Homo sapiens: one gene and its partner. The protein of the gene in region 1 purifies or fractionates together with the protein of each later gene. This does not show direct contact. Each region holds a gene or a part of one and is shown on either strand. Other genes may lie near its edges.

What was found. The genes of interacting proteins can lie anywhere in the genome.
Region 2: the proteins of CUTC (region 1) and XPO7 purify together in Homo sapiens (co-immunoprecipitation; 2 studies listed by BioGRID and IntAct, with this or other methods). This does not show direct contact.

Annotation. Positions count from the first base shown.
Region 1 is NC_000010.11:99,730,230-99,733,980, reverse strand, and holds the start of CUTC (copper homeostasis protein cutC homolog), read right to left. Parts: upstream 1,748-3,751; 5' UTR 1,633-1,747; coding exon 1,572-1,632; intron 1-1,571. Other genes in the region: heme A synthase COX15, read left to right, coding at 1,932-2,021. UniProt on the Homo sapiens protein: May play a role in copper homeostasis. Can bind one Cu(1+) per subunit.
Region 2 is NC_000008.11:21,978,575-21,982,325, reverse strand, and holds part of XPO7 (exportin-7), read right to left. Parts: intron 2,243-3,751; coding exon 2,123-2,242; intron 596-2,122; coding exon 449-595; intron 1-448.

The DNA.
Region 1 (3,751 bases):
CCTGGTAGCTACCAGACCAGCTGTCAGATCAGTGGCACTGGCCGATGCTGATGCTGCCGGGGGACTATTTGCCTCACACAAGAAAGGACCCTAGGCAGGAGAAGATGGAGAGATGTATAAAAAAGGCTATGACAGAAGGCAGAGCAAGGCAGTTGTCCCAAGCAACAAAGTTATAGGATCAAAGGAGAAGCAGCAGCAGTTCTCAAAGTGTAGTAGTCCAGAGAGCTTTGGGAGCCTCTGAGACTTTTCAGAGTCTGCAGGGCTACAACCGTTTTCTTAATAATTCTAACACTTTATTTGACTTTTTCACTTTAATTCTCTCACAAGTGAGAGGCGTTTTCTTTTTTGAGGCAGAGTCTCACTCTGTCACCCAAGATGGAGTGCATTGGCGCGATCTCGGCTTACTGCAACCTCCGTGAAGAGGCGTTTTCAAGAGGCTACTTGACATGTTAGACTGAATGAAGCAGCGGGCATGAGAATCCAGCTGTCTTCCATTAAGATATACTGAAGAAACTTGCAAAAATATATTTCCACTCTTTTGCTTTTTTTGTTGTTGTTGTTTAGGAATATTTCTTTTTCAAAAAAATATTATGTCAATATGTAATGGGTTTACTATGGTTATTTTCTAATCAATATTTTAAAATTTTGTTTTAATTTTATTTTTATTTTTTTGAGACGGAGTCTCGCTCTGTCGCCCAGGGTGGAGTGCAGTGGCGCGATCTCGGCTTACTGCAACCTCCGCCTCCCGGGTTCAAGTGATTCTCCTGCCTCAGCCTCCCGAGTAACTGGTATTACAGGCGCCTGCCACCATGCCCAGCTAATTTTTGTATTTTTAGTAGAGACGGGGTTTCACCATGCTGGCCAGGCTGGTCTCGAACTCCTGAGCTCAGATGATCTGTCCCCCTCGGCCTCCCAAAAAAAAATTTGTTTTAATTTCTAATACAGTCAAAATAGATAGATGTAATCCACATAAAGAAAAAATCTTTGAGGATTCTTGATAACTTTTAGGAAGGTTCCTCTTCACGGAGGAAGAGGGACTTGCCAAATTCTCTGGCACCTGCCATGCCATGCTACCCTGGCACTCAGGAAGAACTCGGGTCTTGGAGCAGCCACAAGCTCGGCCACTTGGTAGCTGCGTGACTTTGGGGACCAAGCCCCGTCCCCGCCGTGGCAGCTACAGGTAACTGCAGGTTAGGAACTGGGCTCCGCGCTCGACAATTAACTATCCCAGCGGAGTACTGGCTGCTGGTGCGGGCGGTACTGGCATCCTCGTGTGGCGACGGAAAAAACGTGAAGCTGAAGTTAACCAACTTGCACAAGGTCGCAGGGCCGTTATGAGGGGACCCCGGGACTCGAACCTTGGCTCCACAGCTGAGCCATTCTCGCTACCTGCCCCTCGTCACGCCCTCCGTTTCCACACCTTTAACGCCTCAAAGATAGAAGGTGCCGCCCAAGGGGCTGGAAGGAGCTGAGGAAACGACTCCAGAAGAAATCACCACTGACTACGACTCCCGCCGGCCCGCCCCGGGGAGCCTTCGGCCGACCGTCCCCTCCCCCGCCACCTTCCGCACCGGCCTTCCCGGACGGTATCCGCGCTCGTTTTCGCTCAGAGGAGGCCCCCTGCCTTTTCATGCTCCACGCGTTCCTCCCTCGTGCGCCTGCAGTTTCCACTTGGAATTTGGGCTCCGGCGCGCACCAGCTAAGAAGCGCGTCAACAGCTGCGCGCGCCCGTGCGCGCGTCCCCGACACCTACGCCCCAGCAGCCCCCGCGAAAGCGGAGTCGCAACGCAGGCGCACTTCTGTTCGCTCCGGTCCCCAGAGAAGGCGGGGCTCCCGCTGCCCGACCCGGAAGTGCTTCTCTTTTCCTTGGCGGAGGAGGGAGACCACAGAGCCCTGGGTTGTGGAAGAGGTGGCTGTTCCCTGTCATCAGTATGCAGCGATTGCTCTTTCCGCCGTTGAGGGCCTTGAAGGGGAGGCAGTATCTGCCGCTCCTGGCTCCTAGGGCAGCGCCTAGAGCACAGGTACCGCACTGCAGCGGACTCCGAGTCGCGGGAGCGGGGATGGAGTGAAAGGGCCGGGATAAAGATAATGTAGAGCCCCACATCACGTTTCCGGAGCTCCTTACAGTGCACTCACAACGCATAGGTTCAGATCAGAGCCCCTAGGTTCAGATCTGGAACATTGACCTGCTGTGTGGTATTGGCCAAGTTAATTAAACTTTCTGTTCTTCAGTTTCCTTATCTGTAAAATGGGGATAACAATACCTACTTTAAGGTTTGTTATGAGGATTACATTCTTTAATATACATCAGGCCTTTAGCACATGGTAAAAGCTGAGTAATTTTTACCCATATAGTTTATTTTTGCTTAAAAAGTTCCAAGTAGTCAGATGAGGAAGTATTACTGCATCCTACAGAGAAGGAAATTGAGGCTTAAAGTTACTTTTCTAAAGGTGACTCAGTTAATCAGAAATAGGAAACCGAGCATGGATCTTTGGACTCACAGGGATATAGTAAGAAGAGGGCATGCATTTGCTTAACTAGTAATTATTGAGTGGTTATTATATATTAGGAACTGGAAAAAGAAAGATAAATATTACAAGACTCCTGCCCTGGAGGAAGTCAGTTTATTCATTTGCGAAATCCTTATCATGGTCTCATTATATAAAGGAACAGTGTTAGAAACAAAGCTAGCAGAAGGGAGAGAGCAAGACTGACCGGACACTGCCACCCCAAAGCTCATAGTTTAGTGGGAGATACAAACAGATGAACCTGAAGGTAGAGTGATGTGCTGCATAACAACATTTTGGTCAACAACAGGCCACAGATACAGTCATGGTCCCATAAGATTATAATGGAGCTGCCTTTCCAAGTGTACCTTTTTTTTAAAAAAAAATCTTTTTCTCTAAATTTCTTTTTTAGAGACAGCGTTTTACTTTGTCACCCAGGCTGGAGTGCTGTGGCATGATTATAACTCACTGCAGCCTCCAGCTTGGAAATCCTGGCCTCAAGCATCCTCTTACCTCAGTCACTTAAGTAGCTAAGACTACAAGTGTGTGCCACTGTGCCTAATTTTTGAAAAAATAGAGATAGGGGGTCTCGCTACATTGCCCAGGCTGGTCTCGAACTACTGGCCTCAAGTGATCCTCTCACCTTGGCCTCCCAAAGCCTTGGGATTATAGGCTTGAGCCGTTGCACCTGGCCCCATTTTTAAATCTTTTATACCATATTTTTACTGTAATTTTTCTATGTTTAGATAAACAAATACCATTGTGTTACAGTATTCGGTACATAATATGCCATACAGATTTATAGCCTAAGAGCAATAAGTCATACCATATAGCTCAGGGGTGTAGTAGGCGATACCATCTAGATTTCTGTAAGTACTTTTTTTTTTGAGAGATGGAGTCTCACTTCATCGCCTAGGCTGGAGTGCAGTGGTGAGACCTTGGCTCACTGCAACCTCTGCCTCCCAGGTTCAAGTGATCCTGCCACCTCAGCCTCTCAAATAGCTGGGATTACAAGCATACACCACCATGCCCAGCTAATTTTTGTATTTTTGGTAAAGATGGGGTTTCACCATTTTGGCCAGGCTGGTCTTGAATTCCTGACCCAAGTGATCTCCCTGCCTCTGCCTCCCAAAGTGCTGGGATTACAGGTGTGAATCACTACACCCAGCCTTTAGATTTGTGTAAGTACATTCTATGAGGTTCACACAATGATGAAATTGCTTAAGAATGCATTTCACAGAAC
Region 2 (3,751 bases), on another chromosome or scaffold:
CCTGGACCTACTGAACCAGAAATTATGGGGATAAGACTCAAGAATCTATATTTTTTCATCAGTCCCCTAGATGACTGTGATACAAGCCATAAAATTTGAGACCCATTGTTCTATATTACATGACTAAGAAAGAGAGGGCATCAACTCTCTTTTTACTCTTCTGTCTAGCTCCCTGTTCCGACCTTGGCTTTTTTGGGGTGACTATGAGCTAATTCTCTCTGGGATGAATCTAAATATTATCCTAGTAATTCCCACATGTTCCTCTCCCCACACTACTTGCACTTGTGTAAATGTAAATCACAGGCCACAATAGTAACTACTCTGTAGGGCTATACTGGACTTATGGTTACCTTTGCCAAGAAAAAAAAATATATTCTTACATGGTTAAAACCAACAAGCAAGAGATTCCAGTATTTAGGAAGGAAGACACAAGTAATCAAAGACAAACCTGTAGGCTGGTCACTGTGAAGTTGGCTATCAATCGGATGACCTCAGGGTAGTTTTCCACCTTTACCAATTCTCCCAGTTGATAGTTACTCTTCAATCGGGCCAGTAGTCTGCAAAACTCATGGTAATTGTTTGGGTCTGATAAACTCTGGCAGTAGCAGAGGAGAAAAATAAAATGTAAAATGTGCCTTAACATACTTCAAGAATGATGTATACTTGAGATGGCATGGGGGAAGGGGTAGAATCTACTTTTTAACTTCTGGGCTGCAGGTCATGATTCAGAATGATACGTCTGCATAATGTTCAGAAACAATTTTTTAAAGTCACTTTGAAAAGGGACAGTCACATTTATTATCTCATATGTTCACAATAATAATCACATGAGATGACATTATTAGCCTCAATGGACAGAGTTTGAAACAGAAGCCCAGGAGGATCACACTGAGGCTGTAAAGCTCATTATAGCAGAAGTGGGCACGACCTAAGACGTGACTGACTTGTTTTCTTATTGTTACCAATCAAAGGAAATCTAATGAAATTTTCATTTCCACGTCTGTCAAACTGATCATTCAGCACAACTAACCGATAGTTAGCAAAGTTATACAAATGTTTCATATATTTATATCACTTACTGTAATTTATTCATATAGTAGTATTTATATGATATAGCAAATATTACAGCTATTTTAAAATCTATTCTACCAGTATATTTAATTGTAAGTTTCCTGATATGTCTTCTTCTGTTAGCATATGTGGGCTAAGACTTTGTTTTGTTCACCCGTGTATCCCTGGCACAGAGTAGGTATTCAATGTAATTTGTTGAATGAATAAATGAATTTTAAAAAGAGGGACAAAACTGAGTATATTTTGAAATAAACTGCTTTTTAATTTTCTTCTAGTATAGAGAAGTGATACTTTCAAAAAAATACTGAATCACTGGGACTTCAAAAGACAAAAAGGGCAATCGAGTTATGAAATTAACGTTTGAAAGAAGTATCTTCCTTCCCACCTAAAAGCAGCCCTATATACTTAGGTTACCGATAAACATTTTTTAAAAATGGTAAACAAAATCAAAAACCAAATGTTAGTTTTTTTTTTTTTTTTGAGACGGAGTCTTACTCTGTCGCCCAAGCTGGAGTGCAATGGCATGATCTCGGCTCACTGCAACTTCTGCCTCCCGGGTTCAAGCGATTCTCCTGCCTCAGCCTCCCGAGTAGCTGGGATTACAGGCACGTGCCACCATGGCCGGCTAATTTTTTTTGTAGTTTTAGTAGAGACAGGGTTTCACTATGTTGGCCAGGCTGGTCTTGAGCTCCTGACCTCAAGTGATCTGCCCACCTTGGCCTCCCAAACTGTTGGGATTACAGGCGTGAGCCTCTGTGCCCGGAGATGTTAGAGTCTTAACTTCTTGGGGGGAAAAATGACTAGCTTCTTCCTTATTTCCTTATAGCGAAGTGATTCTTTCCTGTAACTCCTACATTTCTGAAGCGGGAGGATATAAGCTCCTCTTTTGGGCAAATAATCTCAGAATTGGCCTACAAATAGAGATTCACTTCAGTCTTCCCTGAAGAACAGACTGAATTGTTTACTGGGCCTTGGGATGGATTTCCTTCTGACTCATAACAGCTGGCCATACACTAATCCTATACATATGTAAATTCTCAGATAAACTTACCTGTGGGTTTTCCAGTATTCGTTTAACACCATCAACAAGATGAGAGAGAAACTTGGCCCTCTCTGCATTGTTAAACAGGGATCTTCTGACTGAAGCGATCTGTACCAAGCAGGATAATACCTAAATGCAGGGCAGAACCCAAACACAACGATTAAAAAGACTGTACAGTTACTTTCACCAGAAACGTTCCACCTCCTACAATATCCTTCTTTAGGATATCTGAAGCAACATTATTTTAAAAAGAGAAAAGAAAAGAACATAGATCCAAGCAGACCACGGCAGCCCATTAAATTCAGTTTGGAAATTCCCTTAGGTACAAATTCCTTTGACCACTCCAATGGCATCTTTGTTCTTGCTGAGATACGTTATTTCACCCTTAAAAATATCGAGCAATTTATACTTTAAAGTTTTAGATTTAGTTTTCTTGGCTAATCTGAGTTTGACATGTAGATGTTATGTGCTTATGTCATTACATGCTATAAAGAAATAAGCGTATCGGCCGGGTGTGGTGGCTCACGCCTGTAATCCCAGCACTCTGGGAGGCTGAGGCAGGCAGATCACGAGGTCAGGAATTTGAGACCAGCCTGGCAAACATAGTGAAACCTCATCTCTACCAAAAATACAAAAAATTAGCTGGGCGTGGTGGCAGGCACGTGTAATCCCAGGTACTTGGGAGGCTGAGGGAGGAGAATCGCTTGAAGCTGGGAGGCGGAGGCTGCAGTGAGCCGAGATCGCGCCACTGCACTCCAGCCCGGGCAACAGTGAGAGACTCCGTCTCAAAAACAAAAAAAAACGAAAAAAAAAAAGAAAAAAAAAAGAAATAAGCATATCACATCTGGGCCCTAAAAAAGCCAGCTTTGGCCAGGTGTGGTGGCTCACGCCCGTAATCCCAGCACTTTGGGAGGCTGAAACAGGCAGATCACCTGAGGTCGGGAGTTTGAGACCAGCCTGACCAACATGGAGAAACCCTGTCTCTACTGAAAATATAAAATTAGCCGGGCGTGGTGGCTCATGCCTGTAATTCCAGCTACTCAGGAGGCTGAGGCAGGAGAATCGCTTGAACCCATGGGTAGTGCCATTCCACTCTAGCATGGGCAACAAGATCAAAACTCTGCCTCAAACAAACAAACAAAAAAACACAACCCAGCTTTATCCCTGAAGACATTTCCCTCTGTTCCCACTGTGTTAGATATTTACATTCTCTGTTTGCCCCCTCTAGATCTGCTTTCGACCCTTTTCCACCCTGCCCTATTCCCTAGGAGGCTGACCTCTGTTGAGGAGAGCAGCCAAGCTCCCTTGCCCTCTGGCTTCTAGTTGGCTTCAACCAATGGAAAGTACCAGCAGGAGATTAGAGGGCAGAGGGAACAGGGTACCCCTCTTCCGACCATCCAGCTGGCTATGCAGTGGCAGAGTTTCTCTAGTGATGGCTGTAGTTCTTGTTGTCCAGCCCTCCTCTAAGACACAGCTTCAACTCTCTCCAGGTTTCCTTCACTTGCCCTTTGAGGCTCCCCACTACTGCCAGCCCCAGGGGCATGCACCACCACCCCGTGCTGGTGTCCCTTAATTTTACCCATACCTTTGCAAGTAGTACTCTCTTAATCATCCCTCTTGACTGTGCTACCTTTTCTT